Linked DNA regions of Homo sapiens. Each later gene encodes a partner of the first gene's protein in a complex. Each region holds a gene or a part of one and is shown in the gene's direction. Other genes may lie near its edges.

Region 1 (16,131 bases):
GTTGATATCATTTACTGAGATGAGGAAAACAGGAAGAAATCAGATTGGAAAGAGAGTGAGAGTTCTGATTTTTATATATTAAGCTTGGGACTGCCTATTAGACATCCAAGTTGGTATCAGCCAATGATGTCAGCCTATGGACATACAAATCTAGACTGTATGGAAGAAGTCAAGAATTAAAATACAAATTTAGAAGTTTTCAGTATATTGTAGGTATTTAAAATAATGACTTGGTTAAGATTATGTATGAGGCCAGTGTAGATATAAAAGAGAAGGCCGAAGGCAGACCCCTGGGATATTCTAAAATTTAGAGTTTAAGATGAACAAAAAAGACCTGGGGGAGAAAAAAAGACTGAGGAGGAACGGAGAGTGAAATGAAAGGAAAATCACAAGTGCATGGTGAATCCTGGAAGTCAAGTGAGGAAAAGAGTTCAAAGATGATTCCTTAAGTTTCAGGAATAATCTACCAAGTAAAATTATGCTCAGGAGTGTTTGGCCTATTTCTGGTTTGCTGTACTTACTTCTGTTTCTTACACTTACACAAATAAGCATATACCCATATTTTAAAAACAGATTTCTACTTAAAATTAAATAAAAATATTCACATATATGAAACTCTTGTCCTTACTCATGAAAAGGAAGAAAAATTAAACATATTCTTGTTGCCTACCCTCCTTTTATAATAAAACTACCTTTTGCACCTGTTAACTTTTCTCTTTTGAGTTTCATTGCAGACACATGGCCTTTCATAAACAACTCTTTTCTTTTAACTGTGGTAATGATAATGATCATTATATGAGAGTCACCTTGCTAAAACTTCGCCAGTGTTATTTCATTTAATCTGGCTTCTTTGTACTTTCAGAATTGCCCGATATTCTTGAAAACTTTCGTACTCTCTGGCAACAACACTATGTTTCAGAAACATTCTAACTTTCAGTTGCCTTAAATATTCGAATTGGCTAGCCATCTAGGAATCCTCATTACATTCAGAGGAGAATAAAAATAGAGACCAAAAATGCTGTGCTGGGTGTAAACATCAGTGTTGGCATGGTGCAAAGTTGTTGAGGTTGCTGTTGTGCCACCTTTAGTAATAGTAAAACAGGAAAAAGGTTTTAATTTACAGTTTTGGATTCCCATTGATTTTATTTTCCCTTCAGCCTGTTGTGATGCTCTATCATAGCTGTCTTACCATATTTGCTTTCTACTGCATTGAAAGTCCCACTTACAAATGGACATCCTGATGCCTAGAGTGGTGAAGTTATTTTCACATCAGCACATTGCCACATATATCTGAGGTACCACTAGTTCATCTTATCTGGTGCTGCTTCTGCATCTCAGGAAATGGGAAAAAAGCATCTTTTTTTCAAAGAAGCATCTTTGGGGTTACAGAGACCAGGAGTGTATGTTTTTCTGCCCTCTCCAACCTGCTGTGCTTCTCTTTCTCTTGCTACTATGATAAATGTCTTGCTTGTGCAGGACAGATGGTGAAATGCAGCAAAAATTCAGCCAACTTCTTTTTTTTCTCTTTTTTTTTTTTGGGCAGAGTTTTGCTCTTGTCACCCAGGCTGGAGTGCAATGGCACAAATTCAGCTCCCTGGAACCTCTGCCTCCCGGGTTCAAGCAATTCTCCTGCCCCAGCCTCCTGAGTAGCTGGGATTACAGGCGTGCACCACCACGCCTGGCTAATTTTTGTATTTTTAGTAGAGACGGGGTTTCACCATGTTGGCCAGGACGGTCTCGAACTCCTGACCTCAGGTGATCCACCTGCCTCGGCCTCCGAAAGTAAATTCAGCCAACTTCTATCTGAAGATGCCCTATCTTTGCGATCTTTATCCTCCACCGGATTGGGGATTTCCTATTCCAGGTGGTTCTCACCTTCTCCTATGCCCATCTATCTTCAGCGCTATAGCTCTTCCTTCCTTTACTAGAAAAGAGATGCTTTGAGACCAGATTTTAAAAACATAAAAAGTCCCATCTCTTCATCTAAAATGATTTTTCTGAAGGCTGTCTTCACCTGCCCCTCAGATTTGGGTATATAAAAAAGCTAGGAAGTTTTCTGCATTGCTCAGTATCCCAACAGTGATTACAAAGTACAGATTGTTGAGTGCCACTCCAACTTTCCAAATTAGAATTTCTGGAAATGGAAACTAGAAATCTAAAGTTTTAGAAACTTCCTCAAGTGGCTCTAGAACTTAAGAACTATTGGCTGTAAGCTCTGTATTCTCCAGTCATTTTCCACCGAGGAAAAGCTCTAAAATTACTGCCAGATGGAGTAGTACTGGTGGTGCTTGTGCTAGTGTTGGTTTTGTGGTGGGGAAGTTAAGTGCATGACAGAAAGGTTTGTGGAGCAGCCTTTCTCTTTGAAGGAAAGATGTAAATGATACATGGCGGCGGAATTTTTCCTATCCATGGTGCTGCTCATAGATACTGAAGTAATAAAAACATGAAAGAGAGGCTATTTTCTATGTGGCACAATAAACAATTTTGGAAATTATCAAGAATGTGTCAGATTAATATTGTTGTAAATTGTATTAAATTAGATGAGTAGCTTGAAGCACGTATATTTAATCTGCACGTTCCTGGTTCATATATTGGTTTTCTACTCAAGTCCTTAAAATAATGAAAGGAAGTGATGATTACTAAACTATGTTACCTACAAGCTCTCTCATATCAGTGATTATGTTGATTAGTTCTCAGATAAAGTATAGTATTTACAAAGAAGAATTTGGGAGTTTAGATGCTCTTTCTCTGAAATACCTTAATTTAACATTTATTTAAATCTATATCAAATAAACTGCATGCACCTCTCTGAACTTCTATATGAAAAATTCTGAAGATAAAATATGTATAAAACACCTGAGGAGACAATCCTATAATTTTTAATAATGACATGTCCTCTGTTAACTCCAACTTATATATAATGATCTCATACACTGTGAGCAAATATTAATAGTTCATTAATATAGGTAATATTTATATAGATAATTTATATACATACACTATAAATTATAAATACTATTACAATACATTGGTTATATGAATATAACAGAGAATATGATGTATAAATAAATTTAATAAAATGCCAAACACAAAACATACGGTATAGTAATTGTAAGATTAATTTTTTGTAAATATTGAGTGAATGTGTGAGGTAAATGTTGAGTAAAAAAAAAATCATACAATTTTTAAAATAAAGTAACTACTTGTTACCTGTCAGTCTTAACAGGCAGGCTACTCAAGTGAAAACTGACCAGTTGAGCTTTAGGAAATATACTTAACATGTGATAGAGAAAGAAGTTCAGAAACAGAACACCAGGGAAGAGATTTGGCTCTGTTCACTCTCCCTACATAGGCTAAAGTAGACACGGGAATCCCAGGGTACAGTGGAAGTGGGGTGCTGTCTGAAATTATCAAGATGCCAAGCATGGCTGAAGTACAGATTCCTCTGACCTGGAGAAGAGAAAGCACGAAGACCTCTTGTCAAGCCTGTACAGCACCATAATGACCTCCTGGCCCAGTCTCTAAGCCACTTAAGGAGCTGCCACCAACCACTAGGAGCAGAGATAACTTCCCCTATGTGGGAGCAGGGAAAGCAACAGCAGAGCTTATCTCTCCCTCTTGCCCCCCACATCTCCAGTCCTTCCTTCTAGTTCTCAATCCCTCCCATGGCACCCCACTCAGAGCTGTATGAGGCACCCCAGTCACTGGTGTTAAGTGCAGGCTCTAAAGTCAGACAGCTCCAATTAAAGTCACCTCCTACCATTTAGATAATCAGCGCCTAGTTTGTTCCCATTGTAAAATTATGATGAGGATTAAATGAAGAGATACAAAAGTTCTCGGTATTGCACTTGGCACCAAGTAGTATTTTGTTGCTACAGAGCACTTAGGTGTATTTCTTCAAGTTCTAATGCAATGTGGTTGTCAGTGGATGCTTTACTGAATGCTTGGACGCTCACTGGCTTTACTGATGACTGCTACCTGACCAAACATAGTAATTTGGTAAATAAAACAAAGTGATAGATAGATGTAAGTAACTTCATGCCCTTTATACATCTGGAAGTGACTTGGACTTTAATATTTAAATACCACATTAAACGAGGCATTTGCGACTGTTAAGAATTGAATCAATAGCTCTGCCTAGGATTGCAACCATTGAATTTTACCTTCATTGTGAATATGGCTTAACTGGCTTAATTCCAGCTGATAATTCCTTTGTGTGAAGAAATCGCAGGCCAATAGCACATTTAAAAGTCCTTGCACACTTTCAAATTATAATATACTACCCAATTTAATCTGTTCTACAACACAAGTGTTATCCTTTACCAATTATTATAGATGGCCAACATTGTATATGGAGATTATTCAAGTTTATATGTTAGATTATAAAAATTATAATAAGGCATACTGTTTACTTTTTTTTTTTTTTTTTTTTTTTTTTTTGAGGCGGAGTCTTGCTTTGTCTCCCAGGCTGGAGTGCAGTGGCGCAATCTCGGCTCACTGCAAGCTCCGCCCCCCGGGTTCACGCCATTCTCCTGCCTCTGCCCCCCGAAGTAGCTGGGACTACAGGCGCCCACCACCACGCCCGGCTGATTTTTTGTATTTTTAGTAGAGACGGGGTTTCACCGTGTTAACCAAGATGGTCTCGATCCCCTGACCTTGTGATCCGCCCGCCTCGGCCTCCCAAAGTGCTGGGATTACAGGCGTGAGCCACCGCGCCTGGCTTGTTTACTTTAACTATATGTGAATTCAATGACTCTCTAAATGGGAAATGCATCTGAACTTCCTTCCATTATACTACAGTTGCTAGCTACAGTTGTCTGAAAAAGCCCTTAACAGGGACACAATTTCCACAGTGAAATGTGACCTAAGGCAGAGGTTCTCCAACCTAGCCATATATTATATATAGTAGCACAAATTTGGAGATTTAATTTTAGAAGTATTTTTTAAATTGTCTGGTGGACTATTCCAGACCCAGTACATTAGAATCGGGGGAGGAGGGGAAGTAGGTGTCAGCATTATTTAAAAGCACCTCACGAGATTGCAATGTACAACCACAGTTGAGAACCACAATCTAGAACTAGAGCTCAGCATATAACTTAAGAGGAGTGAAACAGAGAGATTAGCACTAATTAGGGTTTTCTTTATGTTGTGATCAGAAAAATAAAGATTTGAGAATATTTTTAAAGGATGATTCTTCAGAGAAATTAAAGAACATTTCAGGATAGAAACATATTCTGAAATGTCATGATGAAGATCTTCTAGAAAGGAACTGCTTTGGATGGAGAGTGTCTCATATTTCTTCATTACAATTTTCAGGAGAAACTTAGAGCCATCCAAGTGGACAGCAATCCTAGGCCTGCATATGAAATCAAATCTGACCTCTCCTCAAACAGTCCCTCGATTAATAGATGAAATTGTCATAAACCCTCATTACAATAGGCGAAGAAAGGACAACGACATTGCCATGATGCATCTGGAATTTAAAGTGAATTACACAGGTAAAAAAAAAAAATCACTCTTAGTCATCTTATCTGCCAAAATTAATTCAAAACTAGATTTCAAATATTATCAATGTCAATGCATTAATTCATAAAAGCTAGATAATTTGTTACATAAATCATTGGAACTTAAATGGGATTAGGGAGTAGAGAGAAATATATTAAATTTCTTTCATCAGGATGTTTAAATTCAACTTTCCAGAAAGAACCAGTAGAATAAAACTCTCTGAGCCCTGTATAACAGTAAACTCAAAGGAGAAGCTCAGATAAATAGATGATGTTATTATGCATGCCCTCTCTATTTTTCATGTAAAAGAAAGGTAGGTTCATCTACCAAAAAGCAGAGTAAGACATAAACTGAGAGAAGAACACATGTTCTGTGGGGAAAGTGAGCAAGAATTAAGTTATTCATAGAAGGAAGTTTGGTTTTTTGTTGTTTTGTTGTTTTTTTTTTTTTTTTTTTTGAGACGGAGTCTCGCTCTGTTGCCCAGGCTGGAGTGCAGTGGCACAGTCTTGGCTCGCTGCAACCTCTGCCTCCCAGGTTCAAGCAATTCTCCTGTCTCAGCCTCCCAGGTAGACTACGGGTGCATGCCATGATGCCCAGCTAATTTTTTTTCTTGTATTTTTAGTAGAGATGGGGTTTCACCATGTTGGCCAGGATGATCTCGATCTCTTGACCTTGTGATCCACCCACCTTGCCCTCCCAAAGTGCTGGGATTACAGGCGTGAGCCACCGTGCCCGGCCTTCATAGGATGAAGTTTTTAATGGAGATTCGATAATATTATCTGAGTGACAAATGAAGGACTTCCTCCAAATGCCTGGAAAATGTGCAAGAAATCCCCTGATAAAGTGAATTTTATCATGAAGGGCTCTGCTCAATTCTGACTTTTATTCCTAAGTCTTTTTCAGTGCCCGGTTAGGAGAAAGTGCTGCCATCTCTGTGTTTTCATGGGGTTTGATTTATACATGCATTACAGCACTTATCAAAAGCAGACTATTGCTACGGTTAGTTGTATATCCCTGTCCTTAAGGATAAGCACTGTGTCTTATTCATTTTTGTGTCTGCCCTAGGTCTTACATGCAGTGGGTGCTTAAGGGTGCCAGTTGGCTTGTAAATTGATGCAAGAAGGGCTTTAAAAGTCAGTGACCAATGTCAATGCTTCCATAATTGCCCTGTAAAACAATCTCCTAAAAGCTTTTTTAACATGGTGATAATTGGGGAAAATAAAAAAGTCTCAGAACATTTGCCCAAATTTCTATTAATTGATGCTGAAAATCATCCTTACCATAATTTTCAGAGAACTGGCACCACTTTCTATTGAGCACCATAATTTTATTTAAAAATAAAATATAAATGATTACCTCCAGAACTAAGACATTTTTTACACTATAAAAGAGAAATGAGGGCCGGGTGCGGTGGCTCACACCTGTAATCCCAGCACTTTGGGAGGCCGAGGTGGGCAGATCACGAGGTCAGGAAATCGAGACCATCCTGGCTAACACAGTGAAACGCCATCTCTACTAAAAAAAAAAAAATACAAAAAAATTAGCCAGGCGTGGTGGCGGGCGCCTGTAGTCCCAGCTACTCGGGAAGCTGAGGCAGGAGAATGGCGTGAACCTGGGAGGTGGAGCTTGCAGTGAGCTGAGATCGCACCACTGCACTCCAGCCTGGGCGACCGAGTGAGACTCCGTCTCAAAAAAAAAAAAAAAAAAAAAAAAAAAAAAAAGAGTAACGAGGAGACTAGTAAAAGACCCTAAAGGGCCACCAGTGGTAGCCGATCTATTGTCAAAAAGTGCTGCTCTGAAATGCCTATTTCCCCTAAGACCGATGTCTAAAATTTTTACAGGTAGGATTAAAAAAAAAAATACATGTTTTTTAGATTAACTGTTATTGATTTTTAAAACTTGTTAGAAATGCTTGTAAATCTGTTCTTTCTTTTTCTTCGTTTGTTCGTTTTGCTGTTTGCTTGTTTTTCCAGATTACATACAACCTATTTGTTTACCGGAAGAAAATCAAGTTTTTCCTCCAGGAAGAAATTGTTCTATTGCTGGTTGGGGGACGGTTGTATATCAAGGTAAATTATCAGACTCAAAAAAAAAAAAAAAAAAAAAAACCTTACTGGTGAAAAACAGACTGTCATAATATCCTGTGAATGCTTTCAACATCTTTGCAATTCTTATATAACAGTTTTTTCAATATCTCCTAAAAGTACCGTCAAGCATGTACATATATATATTTAGAGTTGTGTATCTGTAGAGCTTTCAAAGATATACTTGCAGAGTTTTTATATTTGTAGGATTTTGTTTGTTTGTTTTTGAGACGGAGTCTCGCAATGTGGCCCGGGCTGGAGTGCAGTGGCGCCATCTTGACACACTGCAAACTCCACCTCCCGGGTTCACGCCATTCTCCTGTCTCAGCCTCCCAAAGTAGCTGGGACCACAGGCGCCTGCCACCATGCCTGGCTAATTTTTTTTGTATTTTTAGTAGAAACGGGGTTTCACCATGTTGGTCAGGATGGTCTCGATCTCCTGACCTCGTGATCCGCCTGCCTTAGCCTCCCAAAGTGCTGGGATTATAGTCGTGAGCCACCGCGCCCAGCCTATATATTTGTAGAGTTTTTAAAAATTTCTTCAGATTGCATAGAAGATATTATAAAACTATATTCTTTTGACGGGGAATTCAAGTGTCCCCAACCTCAATATCTAGTTTTAGTATTATAAACACTCTGATAAACTTAAAAGCCTCATTAAAATGAATATAAACTAGGGTTACAAAAATTTATTTTTGTAAAGCACATGATAAAGTCTCATCAAAAGCCAAATTATTACCTGTCACATTTTCCAAACTAATAAAACTATCTTTATTTATAATGTGAAGGCCTCACACTCAACATTTTCTTAAAATGAGAATGGAATCTCTTGTAACTTGAACATGCTAATTCTGCTTACTGACAAGAGGGCTCAGATTTGACATGAATCTTACATTGTATCCATCAGTTGATACACCATTCACCCCCAGCATCAACTGCATGTTTTCCAAACACAGAAATCATACATATTAAAAATAATCATACTTTTTTTTGAAAAGTATTCTCGTACTTCATACCCTCTAAATGTAACCACAAGGCTCATTGGCTGTGGAATTTCTAATAGGAGTGCCCTAGCTGGGACAGAGTTTTAACCACTCATAAATAATAAAGCACCAGAAAAGGCTCTGTAGTCTGATAAGAGAACCTGATCCCTGCAGTCACAACAAATTATAGCCATGATGTTTAAAAGTCCTAAATGTATTTAAGATGAAAATGCAGAAAATCTTGTGGAAAGGTAGAGGGTCTCAGAATCAAAGTACTCACATTTAAAATGTCGTTACCTATTATAAGAGAAAGCACAAAGTTCTAAGTCAAATGCTTTTCTGATAACTCCTACAAAAGTTCTTCACAGCAATGACACTGTATTGCTGAAAATGCCTCATGTCTGCTGTCCATCAAGTATATTGAAGTCAAAGACTGTATATTCATATATTTCTCCCTCTTGAAAAATATTATGATTTATTAAACTTCAAATTTAAACAGTAAAAATGATTCCTAGATAGATATTTTCTCTTTTCAGACTTCAAGCTAAAAGACATTTTATGACCACAGTGTAGGCTCTTCAAAAACAAATTAACCAATAACAAAATTTGAAACTCTTTATTTCATAGGAAGTTTTTTTTGTTTTTGGATTTTTTTTAAAAGCTGAGTAAATGTGACTTACGTTTACTTATTGTTACTAAAGATATATGTCTGATTAACTTAAGAAAGTCTCTAAGAGTGGTATGGAGCCAGGAAATAAACTGTATCTGAGATCAATTTCATTTAGGAATAAACAGCTAGATCATGTTTAAATATTTCTTGAGTGATGGTAAGTTTCACGTAGTTTATGAACTTTGCTTTATGACTTCCATCTACTTAATTTCATAAAATCCCAGTTTTCTGGCCGGGTGCGGTGGCTCATGCCTGTAAACCCAACACTTTGGGAGGCTGAGCCGGGCAGATCACCTGAGGTCAGGAGTTTGAGACCAGCCTGGCCAACATGGTGAAACCCCGTCTCTACTTAAAATACAAAAAAAAAATTAGCCAGGCGTGGTGGTACACACCTGTAATCCCAGGCTACTCGGGAGGCTGAGGCAGGAGAATCACTTGAACCCAGGAGGCGGAGGTTGCAGTGAGCCGAGATTGCGCCATTGCACTCCAGCCTGGAGGACAAGAGCTAGGCTTCGTCTCAAAAAAAAAAAAAAAAAAAAAGAATCCCAGTTTTCAATCTTTTGAGTATATTATACTAATTGATTAGCTAGGAAAACCATGAACATATTGTTCACTAGGAAGAAATGAGGTGATACTAGTTGGTTAAATCAAGGCAATCAGTAAACAGACACTGCTCAAATGTTCCTTTACCAAACAGTTTTATCATCTACCAAACAAATTTTAAATCATTGACAAGCAGCAGAAGTGGCCTTGGTTTTTATTGTAAAATTAAAGTCTGCCAAGCCATCCTTGATCCTCATAGAATGGATAACAGTGAGATGCCAAATTTTCTCCTCCATTTTAATCTCTGCAATTCATTTTCTTATAGTCCATTGTCAAACTTGAAAAGTTATCTAGTAATGTTTACTCCATGTTCACTGCCATGCTGGTACCTTGAAATTGATCATTGTGGAAGTGTTTACATCAGTAAAATGAGAGGAAGGCCCATGGGGCTTTCATTTTTCTGGAGAGAAAATTGATATACATTTACCAATGCACTACTGAGTCATATATATCTGTTTTGCATTTAACTACACACACACGTGCACGTGTGCACGAACACACTTTTTTTGCTTCCTTCATCTTTTTAGTGCATGAATTAAATTTAGCTAGAAATGAGGTCACATAAATTTTTTCAGCATCAATGGCTGTCAAATGTACTAACTTCTCTTCAACGTTCTGCCTCTCTTGAGGAACAAAATAGAAATGCTAATTATTAGAAAGTGCTTATCATGTACCTTTTCTGGGGCACTAGACACCTGCTTGTTTCACATCTCTCTTGGGATTAGTATTTCAGCAGAGATTCGTACTTCTAGTGGATGAATCATTTTGTAAAAAGCAGGTAAGTACACTCTGCTTTATTTTTTTAAATGCCTCCTTTCTCTTCACCTGGGTATGCATGACAAGCTGATTGCCCCTAGACCAGGGCATAGTTCATCTGAGCTTTGTCCTCTGCTCGATGTGCACCTGCTCACTCACATAGCACCACAAAGAAGCTGAATGCTATTATACAGAAGCGAGCACCTCCTCAGGTGCCAAATGAAAAGCACTTCTGGATTTCTGAGCTGTTGCTAATTTCCATGAATGAAACACTTTGTGTTGGGGAGCGTTTTCCCCCATGAGCAATCCTGTAACTGTTTAAAATCACAGAAGATGCCCAAAGACCATCTAGTCTAATCCATCGCTCCTACTAGCCCTTCGGTAAAAAAGAAGAGCTTTCCTGTTATCCATTTGGCACAATCCACAGATGGGCTTTATTATGTGCTTTAGTGTGCAAGGTTTAGTATTTAGTTCCATTATATATACACAGTACTTGATAATGAGAGTGAAATGTTGGAATAAATAGGACTGATGGTAGTTCATTCAAGGATGCATGTTGATCACTTCTGACTGGCTGGCTGCATTCTCCATTTTGAGCAGGTACTACTGCAAACATATTGCAAGAAGCTGATGTTCCTCTTCTATCAAATGAGAGATGCCAACAGCAGATGCCAGAATATAACATTACTGAAAATATGATATGTGCAGGCTATGAAGAAGGAGGAATAGATTCTTGTCAGGTAAAGATGTAAAACTGCTCACTGTACCTTTTCAGAAAGCACTGGTGTTATAGTTATTTCATTGCTTAACAATAATTAGGGAGTAAAGAAATAAGCTTCTTTCATTTCTCTTTTACAAAACTGTTACTTTTTGCCTATTTGCGTAATCCTCTTGGGTAGACCTGAGCACTGGAAACAAAAATTATTTTTTAAGAAAATAGGTTACAAATCGATGCTTTTGGAGACTAGACATAATACTTGAATGTGTGAGGCAGCCAGCTAAAATGAGCAGTGGACCTGGGTTGAGCCAGAAAGTGTGCACCTTATCTAAAAGCAGTTTCTTTTCAAATTTCCAATTATTTTAAACCCCATGCAAACTTAAAACAAACAAACAAACAAAAACAGGGCTTGAGGGCCAGTTTAGTCTGTGGGCCTCTAAATTTCAACCCTGAATTTAGAATATCATCCAGGCGTGCAGTAACCTGAAGTAATTTCTTGATGAAAACCTGCATAGCCTCGTTAGAGTCAATTTACAGCTAACCAAAGGGGAAGTAAATAACTTAATAGACTGGCATAACCCTGGCTCTGGCTTTTATATTATCGTTTACACTGTATATTAGAAATGTAGTAACTTGAACTTGCTGTAGTGCTAATGTCAATATTGCAATAAATTTGAAGTGTCAATGGCTCTTGACCTGTGTGACATTAGGAAAAAACTCTTACCCACGTAGTAACTTCACTGAAATATCTTGCCACCTAAGAGTAATGTTCCTATTAGCGCCATGAAATCCAAGTACACACAATAAATAAAAAGGGAAGTTCTGCTAGATTTTAGAATTGTAATTAATTTTTAGGTACAGCATGGGGTAGTCATGAAGAGCATGGATTCTATGTTCAGACTACTCTTGTTTGATCCTGGCTTTAACACTTATTGGTGAGACTTTGGGCAAGTGACTTAGGGTTTATGGAGAGGTTTAAATGAGATAACCCATGTAAGGCATCGAGCAATTACTCAAAAATGTTAACAGTTTTTATTATGAAGCTTAGTAAATAAATTTTCTGGCATATTTTCTATATTTGAAAATTAATAACATATCAATGCTTTAATGTCTGCTGGATTAAACCTGCTAGCATTACTGACCAAACGAATAATTACTAAATGAAGAAATAGCAGTTTATGTCATAGGAAAATGGTTTCACTGTGTTAAAGTGTAGCAACTTATTTTATATATTAACACATATATGTCATACTATCAATACATGACGAGCCATCTAAATTGACGCTTATTCAGATCATCTGTATGTAAGTCCTCTAGTTAAATCAATATCTTCAGTTGTGTTAAACTTCCAGCTTAGTTTTACATTTATTCTGCTTTGATAAATGCTTGCAAATTCAAGACAAATAGGATGGCTTTTTTCTTGTTTAAAATTTATCTTCGGGTCTTATACTTCTTTTTTAAAATGAAAAGTGTGCTAAAGGTAAGATATATTGCCACTTAGAAGGAGATCTATAGAATTCTTGCGCAGAAGGGAAATCAGCTGGACAACTTCAATTACAGCTAATGGGGATTGTGTGGCAGACACCTCACGCACTAGGCAGAAAATATGACGGCTGATGCTATTGATTTTAGGGTTACATTAAGTCATTAACTCATGCCAGGTCTCTGAAATCTTATAGCTAGCTCTGATTCTACACAGTCTAAGCATGTTATTCCTTGGTAAGCAAGAAGTCTCCCACATAAGGTAATACCTTGTATAATAAAATGTTATCATAATTGAGTAATTAATACACTAGACTGTCACATGATTTTCTTTGTTCAACTTTAATACTATGTTTTATAACAGGATTAACTGATTAAATAAGAATGCATTCTTTAAAATTGTGAACACGTTATTACTGATACATTATTTAAGTTCTTTGAAGCATCATTTTTTAGCCTTACAGTGGCAAAGAATGTGCCTTATTAGTCATCCACAACTTCTGACTTACCAAAGGCTTGCCTTTTAGTGGTAGTAGTTTGGATTTCAAGGCAACACCAATGGCTGAAGAATATCTTCTCTACCTAAAATTTAGTGACTGACACTCTACCTACCATTCCAAGCCATATTCTATTCCAATGGCTTTCAATGCGTGGCCTCCAGTCCAGCAGCACCACCTGAGAACCTGCTAGAAATGCAAATTATCAGGGCTCATCACATATCTGCTGAATCAGAAACTATGAGGGTGGGGCCAGCTATGTGTGTTTGTCACATCTTCCAGGAGATTCTGATGCACACTAAAGTATGAGAAGTAATGTTCTCAACAAAAATGGTCACCAACCCTTGCACTCAGACACTCAAAGAAGGTACTGATTTTTATGTTTACTTATAAATATAGCATCTCACTAGAAACATAAATTTAAGGTTAATACTTTATGTTCTGTAAATTCATGCATATTTTTAAAAATATTTATTTACGTATGTATTTATTTATTATTTATTTATTTATTTTTGAGTCAGAGTTTTGCTCTTATTGCCCAGGCTGGAGTGCAGTGGCATGATCTCCACTCACTGCAACCTCCACCTGCCGGATTCAAGTGATTCTCCTGCCTCAGCCTCCCGAGTAGCTGGGATTACAGGCACCCATCACCACACCTGGCTAATTTTTTGTATTTTTAGTAGAGACCGGGTTTCACCATGTTGGCCAGGCTGATCTCGAACTCCTGATCTCAGGTGATCCACCCGTCTCGGCCTCCCAAAGTGCTGTGATCACAGGTGTGAGCCACCGCACCGGGTCCCATGCATATTTTTGAAGTACTCATATATCTCCAAGACAGTGGAAGAATGAAATATTAATATCTTCACTGAACAAATCAGAAAATTAAGGAAAGGCAACAAATGTGAAAAAAAAACTCAACATCACTGATCATTAGAGAAATGCAAATCAAAACCACAATGAGATACCATCTCATGCCAGTCAGAATGGCGATTATTAAAAAGTCAAGAAACAATAGATGCTGGCAAGGTTGTGAAGAACTAGGAACACTTTTACAGTGTTGGTGGGAATGTAAATTAGTTCAACCATTGTGGAAGACAGCGTGGCAATTCCTCAAGGATATAGAACCAGAAATACCATTTGACCCAGCAATCCCTTTACTGGGATTAAATCATTGTACTGTAAAGACATATGCACACGTGTATTTATTGCAGCACTATTTACAATAGCAAAGACTTGGAACCAACCCAAATGCCCATCATCAATGATAGACTGAATAAAGAAAATGTGGCACATATACACCATGGGATACTATGCAGCCATAAAAGGGAATGAGATCACGTCATTTGCAGGGACATGGATGAAGCTGGAAGCCATCATCCTCAGCAGACTAACACAGGAACAGAAAACCAAACACTGCATGTTCTCACTCATGAGTGGGAGTTGAACAATGAGAACACATGGACACAGGACAGGGAACAACACACACCAGGGCCTGTTGGGGACTAGGAGGTGAGGGGAAGGAACTTAGAGGGCGGGTCAATAGGTTCAGCAAAGCACCATGGCACACGTATACCTATGTAACAAACCTGCACATTCTGGATGTGTATCCCAGACCTTAAAGTAAAATGTAAAAAAAAAAGAAAAGAAAAGAAAATTAAGGTAAGGAGAAGTTACATAACTAAACTGATGTGTTATAGTTAGATGACAAGAAGTAATGGAAACAGACTGAGGTCTCCCAATCAGGTAGACCACCCAGCCGATAGGCAACAAGTCTGCCGCAGGATCCTTGAGTAACTGCAACCGACCCAGTATGTTCTGGGTAAAATCCTTATTCTGTCTGGATCCTCTTGTCTATTAAAAAATTAAATTGTTTTAGAAGATATGTAAAAAAACAAGTTACTCCTTTTAAAAATATCCAAACAGCTGAAGTTTATTTTTAATAATTTCCAAGTCATATAAAATGTACTTTGATCCTTGAATATAAACTGTTCCATAAATATTTCAGAACCTATAATTACAGATTAAGGGTTTGGGATGCAGAAATAGAAATCACAGTCCCTGCTTTCAAACACCTTGCACACATTTGTTACACTAGAATGTTGGTAACCTATGGTCGCCAGTGCAATTTATGTTCCTGTGTATGGAGGGGAAAAAAGGGTGCATTGATAGATTACATTTTTTTCTTTAAATATAGGGCCCAAAGATGATAAAAAGGATCAGACAAAAAGTCTCTCAGGATAATTTCTAGCATCGAGCTGGGATTGAAATATTCTATTATACCAGTGATTTCAAAACACATAAAACTTTAAATGTCTTCATAAATATAAAAAACAAATTAATCAAAAAGATTTGCCCAATTAATACAGGAAAAATACTTGTCAATTTTATGTCATTAAATAATGATATTATATGTTTGTATTATCATTGCATTACACAGGAATCACGTGCAAATAAAATCTATGAAATTTACTTTACTAGGATCTGCTGTGATTAATATTCATAAAAATTAAAAATATTTCTTAGTTTGAAATCTCAGATGAAAACATGAGCAATTATCACTAAAAATTATATCACAGACTTCCTTATTTCAGTTGAAATGTTTTTCAAATCGGATGGTGTTTGTTGAGCCCCAAAAAGATAATACTACCCAAGAGAACTAAAATCTACTTTATGTGTGAGTTCCTAATTTTTCCAAAAAGTATATTGTGAAATAATTTGTCTTTTCCATAGTGTCCTTTGTGGCACTTACAGCAGATCTCCTTAAATAAAGTGATTGGCTGTTAATAAATATTTTGTTTGGGATGCTTTTCATAGTTGTGCTTTAAAGAACTTC
Region 2 (16,110 bases), on another chromosome or scaffold:
CAAGGACCCCCTGGCTGGTCACGCCCTTGTGCATATTTATATTGCCAGCTCAGGATCCTTCATTCTTAGGTCTCTTTTTCTGAGGCCTATGTAGAGGTCTTCTTCAGGTGCCTCTGTCAAGGCCTCCTAATAGGAGAGGAAGAGAGAGCCTTAAAGACACTTTTCTCCACTCTGAGTACCCAGTGAGTTTCCACTTTCTCCTTGCAGGGCTCCCCAACAGTGAGACAACTCCATGTCTGTGCTAATCCAACTAACACTTGACCAGTGCCATTTCCACAGGGAAAAACAGAACAGGGGGAGTCAGTAATTTCTCTGGCTTTAGACTCTTGCTTACACTATTGAAGGAGGTAATTAAAGATTTAACTCTTTCCTTTGGGGCTTGTTGCTTTAATTGGCTCACTACCTGGATGCAATATACCCATGTAACAAACCTGCATGTGTACCCCCTGTATCTAAATAAAAGTTGAAATTTTAAAAAGAATAAATATGTTAAAATGAGTACCTAAGTCCTCAGCACTCTTTTTCAGCTATGCTGAGCTCCTGACACTCTAGAATATTCAAAACAATATTTAGAAAGAACACATTTGGAGTCCTTTCACTGTCTGACCAAGACTTACTATAAACCCACAATAATCAAAGTAATGTGGTACTGGCAAAAGGGCAGACAAATAAAAGATACACATTAAAACCACAATGAGATACCGCTAACCATCCACATACCCACTCAAGTTAAACCACCTGGCAACACCAAATGCTGGCAAAAATTTGGAGTCCCAGAACTCACATATATTGTTGATGAAAGTGGATAATAGTACAACCAATGTGGAAAATGTTCTAATAGTTTCTTATAAAACTAAACCCCTCTGATCATCTACCCCTATGAGCCAGCAATTATACTCCTAAGTATTTACTTAAGAGAAATAAAGGCATAAATCTACAAAAAAAGACTTAAACTGGAATGTTTACAGAAAGTGAATTCATCATTGCCAAAACCTGGAGATATCTTGAACGTCCATCTACAGGAGGCTGGCTAAACAAACGGTAGTATATCTATATGGTTACATATTCCACTGCCACAAAAAGGAATGAAGTACTGATACACACAACTTGAACAAATCTTAAAAATATTATTCTGGGTGAAAGAAGTAAACAAATCTTAAAACCATTATTCTGGGTGAAAGAAACTTTGCACAGAAGAGCGTATGATGTTATTCCATTTATATAAAATTCTAGAAAAGAATAATTTATAATGAAAAAATCAGAACACTAATTGCCTCTAAGGAGTTAGCAGTGGGAAAAACTAAAGGCATGAGAAAACTTTGGAGATAATGGTAATATTCTACAATTTGGTAGGTTACACAGTGTATGCATTTGTCAAAACTTGTTTAACGGTATTCAAGATTTGTGTGTGGTGCTGTATGCAAATTTTACCTGAAAAACACCTTGAACTCCAGTTAATTATACACGTGCTGAACTGCTTAGAAGTGAAGTATGCCTCCAACTGACTTTTCAATGAATTAAAAAATTAGATGGATTGATGGATGAATAGAAGGATGGATAGATGGATAGTTATGTGGTAAAGCAGTAACAGTTTTATCCAGAACCTAGGCGGTGGGTACATGCATGTTCACTGTATAATAGTTTCAGCTTCTATAGATGTTTGAAAATTCTCATAATAAAATGGAAAATAATGGCATGATTCTGTGTATTTTTTAATAAAATCAACTTTGAAATATGCTGATAAGAACCACATTGCTAATTAAAGAAGTGAAGTACAGGAAGGTTTGGGCTGTGTGTTTCTGTGTAAAAGAAGGAGGAGTCAGATTTACATAAACTTGAACAAGCAAGAACTATTATTTCTAAGAACATGTAGCAAAATAATTACAAGACTGTCTCTGGAGAAGGAACTTACCTTTTGTTCTCTGTTATAATTGAATCATTAACCAGGTGCATGTATTAATTCAATAAATAAACACATTAAAATTCAATGAGAGTTTAGTATCCATAACATTCCCCGAGAGAAAAATCTAGAGACCACTGCAGTTTGAAAAGCATGAAAAGGGAGAGGAATATGTTTGCTGTTTTTTGTTTTTTGTTTTCCAAACAAAGAGAATACTGATGAAGAAACAAAGATTTGGAATTTAGTAAAGAATAGGGATCATTTGTTAATTTTCAGAAGCTTTTAGGATAAATAAAATGAAAAAGATGCTGGGTTATTTTGGCATAGAGTTTGATACACTTGACTAAAAGATTTAAAAATATACCTACATGTCAAGAAAAACTGAAGTATTCTATACCTTTTACTACTTCTACTTAGCAGAGTTTATCTTGAGCCACTGTCCGTGGCATGTCCAATAAGTTGTAAAGGCTTCACACACACTCCTCATATGAACAAGTTGCTGAAATATTGTTAAAGTGTCACATTTTGTCCATTATAAGGTAAATTGTTTTTCACAATTCTATTTTCTTTGAAATACGGGTAAGTCCTATAATCAATCTTCACCTTTAATGTGGTAGTACTAAACACCACCCAAAAGTAACAATTAGATATTTAATAGAACATCTTATAATAGAGAGAATCTCAGAATCAAATAAATAAGATGGGTTAGTTTTTGCAAGCCTGTCTTTCTGGAGTTTCCTAGTATTCTTTAGAGTGTTAGGCCTATCATTCTCAGTTACCCACCAGACTGTACTTTACTAAGGCACAGGCAACTGCAAGAGTCAGACAATACTTGATAGTGTTGATATTGACACTTGAGATTTGTGATCGCATAGGCATTGATTTGAGTCCTGACTCTGTTACTTACTCTTGGATTATATGAACTTGGATAGGTTATTTAAGGTCTCTAGGTCTTATCTGTAAAATTTCCTAATCCGTAAAAATAGTGTGATGATAATAAATAGCCTAGCCAAAAAAATAGACTTAAATAAATGTATGAAAAGTAGAGTAAGTGCTCAAAAACTTAGCTCTGCTTTTATGCAAAAATAAACTATTTTAAGCAGTTACATGATACGAGAAATCAGCTTGATAATGGAAAAAGATCATACCATTGTGGTCAAGTTTTACACAAACATGATCTGTTTCGTGGCCTAGACTGAGTTGAATTAGAATAGAAGAAACCATATTACAAGTATTCAGGAATTAAGCAAAGACAAAAAAAAATAGTTATGACTGTGATAACTGAAACAAGGGAAGAGATATAAGAGACAATGCATTTAATTTGTGAATTGACAAATAAGGTAGGTGAGGAAAAAAGAGGCTTATGGAATTCTTGAACCTAACATGCAAGAAGAGCAGGGATGCAATTTATTGGGAGAGGGGAATTGAGGAATAAGAGCCCGTTTATTGGTGTGTGTACGTGTTGGGGGAGGAAGGAGTTCAGTTTGGGACAACCATGAAGACCCAGCAGACAGCTGAAATACTGTAATGAAGTTCCCTTATATTCTAACATATTACTTTTAGTTCTTTGAAGTCAATTCTGCACCCCACTTTTTGCTCTACACCCAGACAGTAGCACAGATTGGTGTTCAGTAATGACAGATGGAAAAGTGATGGGAGAATGGTGGTGAGTGGCTGGTGCATGCTGTGAGACTTGTGCATGAAGACTCATCCTGAGTGAAGAGCCACACGGTTCCACCAGGGGGAAGACTGATTTTTGCATATCATGCAGAAACTCAACCACCTGTTAGAGGAGGGAAACAGAGTGGGAAGGAACTACGCTGTAGGAAGGAAAGATGAACTTGAGTTTCACTTCTTAGTGCCTTTTCTCAGGGGAGAGGCCATCACTTGAAGATGCTGAGTCTTCTGCTCCTTCTCCTGGGACTAGGTATGAGCCTTGTCTTTTGAGGAGTCTGGGGTTAATGTTAACACTGGGTGGAAAGGTGGAAAGACTTTCTCTCCAGAGAGTCTGAAGCCACCAGACAGAAGATGAAGGGGATATGTTAGATTAAAGAACCATAACAGAGTAATTGTTGGCACAATAAAAAGGAGGCAGTTCCCTGGGGTCCTTTGGGAGCTGAGGTGGTATTGGAGAGATAAAGCAGAGACCTTCCTGCCTGGGGAGATGTCTGACCCCAAGCTTGTCGGTCCTCATGAATATCTCTCTGGAACTAGGCTCTGTGTTCAGTGCTGTCATCTCTCAAAAGCCAAGCAGGGATATCTGTCAACGTGGAACCTCCCTGACGATCCAGTGTCAAGTCGATAGCCAAGTCACCATGATGTTCTGGTACCGTCAGCAACCTGGACAGAGCCTGACACTGATCGCAACTGCAAATCAGGGCTCTGAGGCCACATATGAGAGTGGATTTGTCATTGACAAGTTTCCCATCAGCCGCCCAAACCTAACATTCTCAACTCTGACTGTGAGCAACATGAGCCCTGAAGACAGCAGCATATATCTCTGCAGCGTTGAAGACACAGTGCGGGGCACAGATCAAAGATCTGAGCAAGAACCTCAGCTCTCTCCTACCCAGCTCCTCTCACACGAGCCTGAAGGCCCTGCCAAGGTGGGACAGAAGGAGGAAACCACAGCTTTTGGGCAGACACAGCTGTTTCTGTGTTTGTGGGTGGGCATGGGTATGAATGGATAGACTGGGGATGAGGAGAGCATCTGTAGGACTAGCTGGAGCGTTCTATCCACAGGCAGGAAGAGTGGCTCCTGGAAAGCTGAGGGTAAAATTTCTTCTAGAAGGGTGCTCAGAAATACCCAATAAAAACAATCAGATACAGTTTCCTTCAAGTGGCGGGGTCAGTAATAGCCTTTAACTGTTTTATCTCAAGGCTCTTTTTAGCTGGTTTTCTATCATAATATATTTTGGAAGAACTTTAGTCATCTTGAAACAAAGCTGGTACATTATATTAATGACATCTGGTTGTTCTCAGTGAATAGGAATGATAAAGCCCTCTAGATGCTTCAATATGACAATATGACACATGCATCCCAGGCCAATATAAAATCTGCAAAGTTCAGGAACCTTCTATACTGGTGAGTTTTGGAGTGGTCCAGATGTAAGAAGTAAGCTGCTGCACCTTAGATCATGTACCACGGAGAAAGAGGTGCAATGCTTAGTCTTTGGACTTTGAATTAAACTTTGGATATACTGCATTTGATTGTGCTACTCTATCCCATTTACTATGTAATCTGTAAAGCTGGGGCCAGTGCAAGAGAGGGTTCTGTGGCAGAAGAAGCCCATGATGAAAGCTTCCTGCTGCTTGGGCCATGGACTAAGCAGACCCAGTTGTTCTTGAAGAGCCTATGGTAGATACTGATGCCCTGTGGAGCTCCTGACATTCCCCAATACGAGAATCACAAGGCAGTGTGGAACAGGTTTGCTGTGCCCTGATTTGCACTTCAGACCATTGCATCTTGGGCTATACTTTTGTTGCTTTCCAGATCCCAGAGAGAAAGAATGCTCACACACACAAATTACATGAGGAGTGTTTATTACTTACATACAGGCAGCAAGGGAAAACAGAGGCCTAAGATTCAGGGAAAGCCAGTCCCACTAGGCTCAGGAAAGCTGCCCAGGGTGGATGAAATCTTGTCTGTGCCTTCCCTACTTGCACTGCCACTGAGGGACCTCAGAGAGCAGCCACCCTGGGTTTTATATCTTAGAGCAACTTGACATGCTTGGCAAAGCATTGAAGGACATTCTATTTCTAGAAGGGACTGGAACAGAGCCCTGGCTGTTCTGGCCAGTTCCTCCTTATCTCAGGATGTTACAGTCCCAGAACATTGTACAGTTATTTTTGAGAACTACAAGCAAGAAATAGGGGAGTACTGAGTTTGTCCAAGGCCACCTGGAGAATTGCCCTGCAGACAGGTGCAGAGTTTTGGTGTAAAGCCATACTCTTACCGGCCAACGATCCCCTTTCTTTTGAAAAGTTGCTCCTGGCTCTATAATGGATGCCTCATAATGGCATTCAGAACAAGGTATTATCTGATCTGCAAAACTGTAAATTTGGCTGTGCCCAGAGCATTCTGTTATTAAATGGAAAATACATAATCAAGACCATACTTAAGCACAGCTGGAAAAAGGCACGATTCAATTTCAAGAGCACATCTCAGAGTCTCATGCTACCCACTCATACTTTTCTCCTCTTACCTTCAAACCACACCCAAGTTTCATGGAAATTCCATATTTCCAGTTGAGAAACATGAGCTTATTTTTTTGATGGGTCTTCACATTATTCTGGAAGGATCATTACAGTCTAACCAAGTATGGTTCTGAAAGGTAGTGGTGAAGGGAAATCTTCTCGGGGCCAAAACTTAAATTGGTATACCTGATTGTTGTCCACATTTTATTGAAGAAGAGATGGCCAGAAGTATAGCTATATCTTATGTTCAATTTTCTTTCATACTATCATCTAGTCTCCTTACCTATTCAGTCATATTTTTCTTCTTTTTGCTTCTCTATGCTACAATCTGGGTAATTTCTTTAAAACTACTGTTTAGTTTACTAATTCACACCTCAGCTCCAGTAAGCCTCTAATTTAATCTTTCAACTGACTTTGTTCATCTAAATTATATTAATTTTTATTTCTAGAAAATCCACTTGGGTCATTTACAAATATGAGTGGACATTTTTGAAAGCATCTTGTTCCTTGTGTATTTTAAAATTATTTTCTTTTTATAAGTATATTAAGCATCTACTGGGAATTATTATCTGACAATGCCAGCATTTGATGCCTTTTTGCATCTGGCTTTCAGTGGTCTGCTGGCTCTCACTCAGGGTAGCCTATTTCCTTGTACATTATGTAAGTTAATGTGAATTCATCTTTCAGAATTCTTTAAATACTGGAGTAAAAGTGGGTTTTCTAGGAAAATTCATGTTTGCCTCTGTCAAGAAATTGGGGCGCTACAGACCTAATATCATTTTATTTTATAATTCTCAGTATATATCTTCTTGGTCATAGAATGTCTATCTCAAACCCCAATGGGCTGACTGTTCAGTGACCATGAATATTCAGAGGAAATTTTTTAAAATCCTTCACCCAAAGCCAAGACCAAGACAAATAATATTCTTTGTTAATTGCTTCTAGGATTAGTTTTCTAGCTCATCCTTTCACTAACTGTGTATCTCTTTGTGTACCTCACTTTAAAAAGCAGTGATTCCTGTCTAGTTTCTGGTCCATGTAAGGTCTCATGGGCCTTCTCCAGTTTCCATGTGTACTAATTCTCCAGGTCACAGGAATGCACATGTATACCTGTTTTATCTCATGGGCTCAGTGCTAGCTTACCTTCCTGGCCCATGCTCCCATTACCATAGGAAGTTGACAAATTTACCTACAGTGAAGCCTTGGATTATGAAGCACCTTCCTATATTACAAAATTGCCTCTTTAAAAGCAGTAAAGCACTGTGGTTAGGAACTTGAACTTTGTCAAGTGACAGACCTAAGTTTAAAACTTGGTTCTTCTGCTTTAACACTAGGTGTAACCTTAACAAGTTACACAATTTCTCCATGCCTTAATTTCTCCATAGAAAATAAGAATAATAGTGAGTTTTTAAATGTAGGTTTTTTAAAATAAGAAAGTGATACAATTATCTGTATAAAAAGCACATAGAGACAAAATATGCAATTAGTGTAGTTGCTACCTAAACGTATTTCTCACTATAAAAACATATTTTACCACTGGCAATTCCTTCCTCAAGAATAAGTATGGCCCTCTCTCAGAAAATTTTATCATTACAATTGTTTCTCTTTTAGCTATTTTAATTAAATAAAAAATTTGTGGTATTATAAAATATGCATATTATCAAAATAAAAAAGTCAAAATCACTCAGTTTAATAAAATTAGATCATACAATATGTAGTTTTAGAATTTATTCCCTTAACCCAACAATATTTCATGAATATCATTTCATGTCAAAAATATTTTACATTAACTTTAATAAGAATAGTTCGATATACTGATGACCATCCTTCATACAATCAAAACCCATGACAAGGTATATATCCATAGGCTAGATGACAGGGTTATTTAATTTTAAATAGCAATTGTTTGTGTGCGTTGAATTATTTCTGTTGCAGACTCAGAAGGAAATCATGAAAGCCCTAAGTCTACCTGCAGATGGCTGGTTCTTTTTTATTCAGGTGTTAACTTAAATGCCACCTCCCCAAAGAGACCTTTCCTGACCACTCTACGTAACAGCACTTCAGCAGTCATGCCATATTATCACTTTATCCTATTTTAGTAATATGTACTCATCATTTACTGAAAGTGATGTATGTGCATCCCATTTCTATACCTCCTCATATGTGCATAAATGCATGCACATGCACACATGAATGCACTGAAAACAAGAACCTTTTCTGTCTTCTTCGTTGCTGCTTCCAAATAGCCTAGAAGAACTCTTGGAATATCACTCCAGGAATTCAATAAATATTTGTGAGTAAATAAATACATTTCAAAGATAAGAGGAAAATTTATACAGCTGCAGTGGATTTCCCTGGTGGAAAACTCTACAAAGGCATTTGAGTTTAGATAATCTAAGCCCATAAGAAAATTAACTAGATTATTCTAACAGGAAAGGAATAAGCACTTCAAACTTTATATTTTTTATTCTTGTTTTAAATTTATGTTTTAGTTGCGGGGAGGATACAAAAAGATTAAAGGACACAAAATTACAGCTAGATAGGAGGAATAAGTTCCAGTGTTTTACAGAACTGTAGGAGGACTACAGATAACAAGCATTGTATTTGAATAGAAAGGTCCATATGTCATGTGCCAACCCCGTTCTGCTGCCTTACCCAAGACTGGGAAATGGAACAGATGATATGGGTTCTATAGAGAGGCAAAGTGCAGAACCTGCTCAAACACAGTGGCCCTGGGGTGGAAAGTTCTCAATTGGAATTGTGTTGGTGCCTGTGTGGATGGAGCATTCAATTCTGAGCCTTAGGAGCCTTTTGAAGGCCCTCCTGGCCAAGATGATCTTGAGGAAATGACTGACCCATTGGCTGCCTTCCAAATGGATGACACAGTCTAGACTTTTATAAACTACATGAGTAGAAGGAACCCAGTTGACTGGATTTATCACCAAACCTAGCTTGTGAGCCTCAGTCTAGAGCTAGCATAATTTAGAAAAATAAATGCATACATCATATATTAAACTCTGAGTATCATGAAACAGATCCTAGATGTTACAATAATAAGAACCTACATGGGTGTTTCTCCTGCACTCTGTCCTGGCTTTCTTCTGCTTCTTGTCTAAGGGAGCCTGGACTCACTTAAGCAGCTCTAATAGGCCAAACAAGAGAGTGGTCAAGGAGTGGCTGAAATGTGAACAGAAAGACTCACCATTATATTAGAGCAATCAATCTATCCTTAAAATACTGTGGGTTTAGTGTCAAGTGCTAGAGGCTTCCCCATTTACCCATACATGGAAGCCTGAAGAATAAACAGAACTATAAACTTCCCTCTGGGCATAAAACTTGCATGTCTTCCATGGCTTCAAGCTGGGGAGCAGCTGGGCAGGCAGAAGGAGGGGCAAGAGGCAGTCAAGAGGAGGGGCGGGAGGCAGGCGGGGAGGAATGGGCTACTCCGTTTAGCTGATCAGCCTTGACCAGTTCATGCTCTGGGACTCCATCTTACAAGTCAGACTTTTCCGAGTCACACAGAGCACTCCCTTCACTCTCCAGATTCAATGATTCCTGGGATGATATAGTAACGAAAATAATTCCTTATTGGATAAAGAGAAATTGTGCTGTGCGGGAGATAAGTAGCTTAGAAAAAAAAATGGATGAGGAGAGGAGCTGGGAGTTTGGGGGTAAGACAGCCTAAAATCTGACAGTCTGGTTGGGGAACGATAAAAGATACTGGAACCCAAGGAGGAGATCAGTAAGAATGTAGGAGAAAGATCTGGTGGGATTTGGAGAAGAAAGTGTTAAAAAATAAAATTGGAATATGACAGTTTGCAGACTACTAGGTCTGAAAGACGCAACTCTGTAGCAACATGAAGGGGAACAAACTTTGTCTGAATAGGGAAGTTTCTAGTATGATCTCTGCTTTCCTTAGACAAGTAACCCTGGAGAAGACACTTGACCTCTGAGCTTTAGATTGTTCATCTGTAAAAAGGAGAGAACAATATCTGCTGCCTACCACCTCAGTGAGGCTGCACTAAGGATCAGCTCAGAGGAGGCAAAGCAGAATGCCCTATTGCACAGCATGGAGGCCCTAGAGTCGGACCACCATACTTACATCCCATCTTTAAAACCTCCTGGCTGTGTGGCCTTGAGCAAGCCACTTCACCTCCAGAAAGTTCATTTGATCATCTGTAAAATGGGCAATCCCATAGGTGGTTGTGATGATAAAATGAAAAAAACATTTTTAACTTACATGAGTTACATGCTGTAGAGTAAGTTATGTGGTATATAGTAAGCACACAGAAAAGACTCACTGTTATCAAAATTAAAGGAAAGTGGTTTAGTGTGCTAAGCACTAAATACAAGCCAGAGAGATGTCTTGAGAAGTAGACAAAGAAATCTACAATTCAGAATGAACAGTAACAAGAATGACATGTCCTCCAAATTGAGCTTTGGCAGCTGGATCTGAACCTATCCTACACATCTGAGTCTACAGTATGAGGTAACAGTCTCCACCTATAGCTATCTTCTCTGCCTGTAAGGTCATTCCTTTCTGAAGAAAGCTGACCTCAGACTATTTTGCGATCATTTAAGGAAGAGCGCAAAATACTGGAGAAGGCTAGTCTTCAAGCTCTAGATACAGAAAATCCTCAAATTCTTGGGTGTTCCCTTTCAGACTGAGAGTCAGAGCCACAAGCACTGATCCAAAAATCCCCTTTTCCAAAAAAATTTTCCATCTTCTACCAAGGTTCACCTCCCTGTTTAGTGCACACTAGTATCTACAGTTGTTAGAGCAGGAGTCTCTCCTTATCCTCTAAGGCAGGTGTTCTGTGAAGACCCCATGACAAGGGACAAAATGAAACAACATGTTCAGGGACAACAAAGGAAAAGCCCATTTTATCAATGCTCCAAAACCTGGCTACCTCAGGCTTGGCAAGTTATTCGTGAGCAGAGAAGTTTGTCATCTACATGGCAGTCATGGCCTGGATGGGTCTCGAACTGTGGCATGGTAATGCTCTGAGACTAGGTGCCAGGAGAAAGATAAATTCAATCATCCATTTCTACCAGGAAGAAAAGCACCAGGAAGGAATCAGATGTACAGTTTGTCCTCTAGGGACCTCTGTCTTGATCCTCAATAAATCTCCTTTTAGATACCTCCTCTTAGATGAAATTCCCACACTTCACAATGCTCTCCATGGCTTCTGTTGGCCTTATGGTCAGCTCTGCCAAGATCTGTATTCTTGGGCAAGACAGAATCCTTCTGAATCTCAGTCTCTTGCTCTATAAATGGAAACAATTTTGCTCTGCACAAATTACAATTAGCATGTTTGTGGGAAGTTAAAGTGTGAAACTCAGCATAAATGAAAAGTAATGTACCACTGTTGCTTACATGAAAACTCTTGTAAAGTTGTCAGGCACTGTGCACCATCTAAGCATAGCAGTGTTAGGTATGGGCCCATTAGTGATTAGAGGGGGTGCGAGGCGGAGAGGGGGTCTCCAAGCAGTGGGTCTCCTGGCTGTGGGGAAGCTGGCTCAGCAGCCATACCAGGAGCTGAAACCGAAGGTACTCTGTGTGTCCTCTCAACACCATGGGCCCCACTTTGGCATTATTTCCAATTCCCTCTGGTTTCCATTTGCTTCCTCCCTCTAGCCCCCTGGCCAGGTCCGATTTCAACACCAAGTTTCTGAGCTTTTCCCATTTTGTCCACCGTCTCTAGAACATTTCTGCTTCTTTTACCTTTCAAAGAATCCAAACTTGAACTCTACTTACTCCTGCCCATCACCAGCCTGAGCTCAGAGTTGCTGAGAAGGGAAAGCACCCTCATAAGGAAGCTCCTCCTTTCCCTACATCATTAGACTTGAGCACAGACAGCATCTCCATTTCCACACTGCTCTGGCCAGGTTGTGCCTCAGTCAATTACACAACTGTGTCTTAGTAGCCTTGGTAGGGCCCAAATCAGGATATTCTCTAGGAAGATTCACTTTGTACTGAGCCAAGCATAATCTCACTGCATCGAAAATAGAAAATGATCATCTGATCATTCTGGTTCAGACTGTCAGCCCTGAGCAGGTGGGTCAGTTTGCATCACCTGAGTGCAGATTGCAAGGACAACAGTGAGGCTGCATAAAAAGAACCTATGACAGGATGCACATGAGAGAGACAAATGTCTTCACATTGAAGAAGGGGAGGAGTGCGCCATTGGTTTTCCATCCTCCAGAGGCACTGAGAAAGCTCCTACAGAAACTGTGCCCCCTCCTTCTTTGAAACACTTCCCATCCTTAAGCCTTGGTAGGAAGGAGAGAAATCTGGAAGCCCAGAATCCTATGGAATGCTGAGTCTCCCTTCTCCTTACCCCTTAGTGTTGGAATTTTCATTCCCCAAAATCTTGCATTTGACCTTCCTGCACACTGACTGGAGAGAAGCATCTTCATATTCACAGGAATGAGCCTTAGATAAGACTTTGCTCCTCTCATGTGGGCCCCAGGAAACTGAAATCCAAGCTTTTTACCAATGCTTGCCCTTCCTTAAGTACATTAAATACATTCCCAATAGGTGGAAAGATTTGTAAACAGCTAGGCCATTCTCCCTCCTTCTAACCCTCATCTCCAGGGCCTAAGAAAGCCCAGCTCTGTTATCTGGGGCTTGACTTTCCCTGTCTTCCCCATCCCAGTATCCTTGCAGGAAACAGCCGGTCTCGCTCTCTGCTCTCAGAAGGAAAGTTTCCTTATCACCTGTGAATCACAAACCCAGAGAGTGGCCAAACATAGCCAGGCTGATGCAAGACCCTGGGAAGAGGAAAGCTGCAGGTGTGTTTGTGCTGGGAGGAGTGGTGACCCTCACCTCACAGTCACCTCCTCTCTGGATCCTCGTGAGGTATAAAGACGAGTCCTCCACCACCAGTCAGGCACACTCTACCACCATGAATCCACTCCTGATCCTTACCTTTGTGGCAGCTGCTCGTGAGTATCATGCCCTGCCTCAGGCCCCAACCACCCCCCCGTTCCTGGCCGACAAATGCCCTTCCATTCTTACCACCTCTCCTCTTTTGACTGTGCTCTGATATTCCGTTTCCTCCATCTGGCATATCTCCTTCCCATCCTCCTTGGGCTCTTTTTAAGTCTCACCTGTTCACCTTCTCCTTGACTTCACTCCCACCACTGTCATTCATCCATATCCGAGTTGTGGTTGGAGAAGCTGGGAAGGGGGCCAGGTGGGGCTGTCCCACGAAATGAAGCAGCAGGCTTCAGGCTTGGCTCCAACAGCAACAGAATAGCACCACTATAGCTGCTCCTAACCTCGAATGCACCTGGGGAGGTTGAAAAATTACTCATGCCAGAGACTCAGCTCTAGAAATTCTAACTTCAATTGTCTGGGGTAGAGCTTGTGTTCTGGGCTTTTAAGCTTCCCAGGTGATTTTTAATATTTCCAGCCATGCAGCCAAGGTTAAGAATTGCTGTCCTATTGGCCAATAACAAAGTCTACCTTTGTTCTGCCAAAGTGAGCCTGGGGGCTGCCCTCAACTCTGCCCTGACTGCACAGATCTGAGCTATGGGGGAAGGTGGTCATGGCCAGGTCTATGCAGACAGGGGGTTTTCCTAGCTTGGCAAAAGAATCCTGACAATCCAGGGCCCAAATAGCCAGGGGAAGTACACAGGTGATGAATAAAAGAGAGAAGCACTCAGTGGGAGAGACAACCACATCCCAACTCCTATCCCACTGGAAGCATTGTGAGGACATTCCTTGCGACTTCAGCCTGGTGACCCCAGGAGAGCTCGGATCCTCCGCAGGGTACCTAGCTATGTGCCCTGCAGGCACAGAGACTTGGGAGCCACAGGCAGTGATGATCACCAGGGGTGGCAGAGCTCCCTCCCTTGCCTAGCCTCACTGTGCTTGTTAAGGATTTCTAATTAGCAGAAAGCAATCACAGGCTGGGAGCGCCACCCCTAACATGCTATTGACTTGCCTTCTCCCTTCCCATCTCCACTCCAGTTGCTGCCCCCTTTGATGATGATGACAAGATCGTTGGGGGCTACAACTGTGAGGAGAATTCTGTCCCCTACCAGGTGTCCCTGAATTCTGGCTACCACTTCTGTGGTGGCTCCCTCATCAACGAACAGTGGGTGGTATCAGCAGGCCACTGCTACAAGTCGTAAGTGTGGGGCCCCCGACTGCAAAGCTCCCGGCCAGTCTGCCTGGGAGAGCTTGGCTTCAGCCCAGGGAACTACTGAGGTTGGGTAAGATGGATGGGAGAGGTGGTGGAGAAGAAAACTTGTTGGCAGCTGCGGACTCTCCAGAGCAGAGAGTGAACACAAGACAGGAACCTCTCACACCCAGGCAAATCCATGAAACAGCAAGGGTTGTGGTCATAAAAGCAGGCAGGGATGATCTTGGGGTGGTGAGAGCTAGTGAGAAAAGCAGGCAAGTATCTTTTGCTGGTTAGCTACACATTAAAGCCAACTAAGAAAGACTTTTTAAAAATACAGATGCCTTTGTCCTATCCCAGGGCAATTAAGTCAAAATTTTCAGGAAGAGGGTGTGAATATCAGTGAGAATTTTACACTCTACCTCTGCTAACTGTAGAGTGTATAGACAGAGCTGAGAACTGCTGCCTACACCAAGAACTCTCAAACCTGAGTATGCATCAGAACGCCCTGCAGGCTTGTTAAGGCACAAATCACTGGGCCCCTTCCCCAAGGTTCTGATCAGTAGGTGGGGGTAAGGACCAAGAATTCACATTTCTAACAAGTTCCCAGGAGATGCTAATGCTATGGCTACCCTTGGATTAGATTACACAGAAGGGTGGTTCTCACCAGGCCAAGAATGGAGGGAGGAACAGGCACTGTGCACAGTTGGCAAAGGCCTGGGGTGAAGAACGCTGGGAAAACTTCAAGGAGCTCCTTGTGCCCACAGTGCTAGTGACTGTGGAGATTGTGGGAAAGAGTCTGGGGAGGCAGGTTGAGGAGCAGCCTCTGGTGGGATCCCTTTGACTCTTCCCCACCCCACTACCACCAACCTCTGGAGCAGATAGGTCCTGGGTCTCATACCTTCACTGACCCACATCCCTCTGCTGCCCATGCGATATGGCCACACACCCCACCCCATGCCTCCAGAGCTGTCCATGAGCAGAGAGCTTGAGGAACCTGGGGAAGGTGGGATAGGTGCCCTGGCTGTGGGAGAAGGTCTTCACCATGCCTGCCCTGCCCATCAGCCGCATCCAGGTGAGACTGGGAGAGCACAACATCGAAGTCCTGGAGGGGAATGAGCAGTTCATCAATGCAGCCAAGATCATCCGCCACCCCCAATACGACAGGAAGACTCTGAACAATGACATCATGTTAATCAAGCTCTCCTCACGTGCAGTAATCAACGCCCGCGTGTCCACCATCTCTCTGCCCACCGCCCCTCCAGCCACTGGCACGAAGTGCCTCATCTCTGGCTGGGGCAACACTGCGAGCTCTGGCGGTGAGTGGGACCCTTAGTCCTTCTACTTCCCTCCATCCTCACAATTTCCAGAACAAACCATGCCCCTTAACTTGAATCCTCTCACCTCCAGGCTTAAGACACATTTCGAGTGCCCATTACACACAGACTCTGCACTGGGCACCAGAGAGATGCAAACTATCAAGGACTTGGCTCCTAAAATCAAGAGACAGGACAAATGGAGAACTTGATATGATCACATCTTGGGAGGGGTTCAACAATGATCATTCTGGGAACTAAAAGCCAGAGTCTCTTGCCAGGACTTATGTTCTGGAGTCCTCTCCAGGGGCTGTGTTCCTCTTCAGTTTTCCATCCAAGATTATTGTCTCCTTCTCTGGCCTGACCCACATTTCTACTTCCTTTGATCTCTTCCTGATCCTCACAGCCGACTACCCAGACGAGCTGCAGTGCCTGGATGCTCCTGTGCTGAGCCAGGCTAAGTGTGAAGCCTCCTACCCTGGAAAGATTACCAGCAACATGTTCTGTGTGGGCTTCCTTGAGGGAGGCAAGGATTCATGTCAGGTGATTTGACCAACCCTTCCCA

The links.
Region 2: the proteins of TMPRSS15 (region 1) and PRSS1 are in contact, whole or in part, in a cryo-EM structure (PDB 8ZIV), measured with the Homo sapiens proteins. Residues at the interface, in NP_001414986.1 of Homo sapiens: Tyr276, Thr277, Ile279, Trp297, Glu298, Leu316, Glu318, Asp320, Glu321, Ile369, Gln370, Ser372, Phe374, Pro376, Phe377, Ala389, Gly399, Pro400, Gly401, Gly402, Arg403, Glu405, Glu432, Asn433, Lys485, Ile486, Leu487, Val513, Pro514, Thr515; in NP_002760.1 of Homo sapiens: Phe18 (codon at 14,087), Asp19 (codon at 14,090), Asp20 (codon at 14,093), Asp22 (codon at 14,099), Lys23 (codon at 14,102), Ile24 (codon at 14,105), Val25 (codon at 14,108), Tyr45 (codon at 14,168), His46 (codon at 14,171), Phe47 (codon at 14,174), Cys48 (codon at 14,177), His63 (codon at 14,222), Cys64 (codon at 14,225), Tyr65 (codon at 14,228), Lys66 (codon at 14,231), Arg68 (codon at 15,296), Ala91 (codon at 15,365), Lys92 (codon at 15,368), Arg95 (codon at 15,377), His96 (codon at 15,380), Arg101 (codon at 15,395), Lys102 (codon at 15,398), Leu104 (codon at 15,404), Asn146 (codon at 15,530), Tyr175, Phe188, Leu189, Glu190, Gly191, Gly192.

What each region holds. Positions count from the first base shown.
Region 1 is NC_000021.9:18,270,407-18,286,537, reverse strand, and holds part of TMPRSS15 (enteropeptidase isoform 2 precursor), read left to right. Parts: intron 1-5,316; coding exon 5,317-5,498; intron 5,499-7,478; coding exon 7,479-7,574; intron 7,575-11,201; coding exon 11,202-11,341; intron 11,342-16,131. UniProt on the Homo sapiens protein: Responsible for initiating activation of pancreatic proteolytic proenzymes (trypsin, chymotrypsin and carboxypeptidase A).
Region 2 is NC_000007.14:142,736,480-142,752,589, forward strand, and holds the start of PRSS1 (serine protease 1 preproprotein), read left to right. Parts: upstream 1-12,992; 5' UTR 12,993-13,005; coding exon 13,006-13,045; intron 13,046-14,075; coding exon 14,076-14,235; intron 14,236-15,294; coding exon 15,295-15,548; intron 15,549-15,951; coding exon 15,952-16,088; intron 16,089-16,110. UniProt on the Homo sapiens protein: Has activity against the synthetic substrates Boc-Phe-Ser-Arg-Mec, Boc-Leu-Thr-Arg-Mec, Boc-Gln-Ala-Arg-Mec and Boc-Val-Pro-Arg-Mec. The single-chain form is more active than the two-chain form against all of these substrates.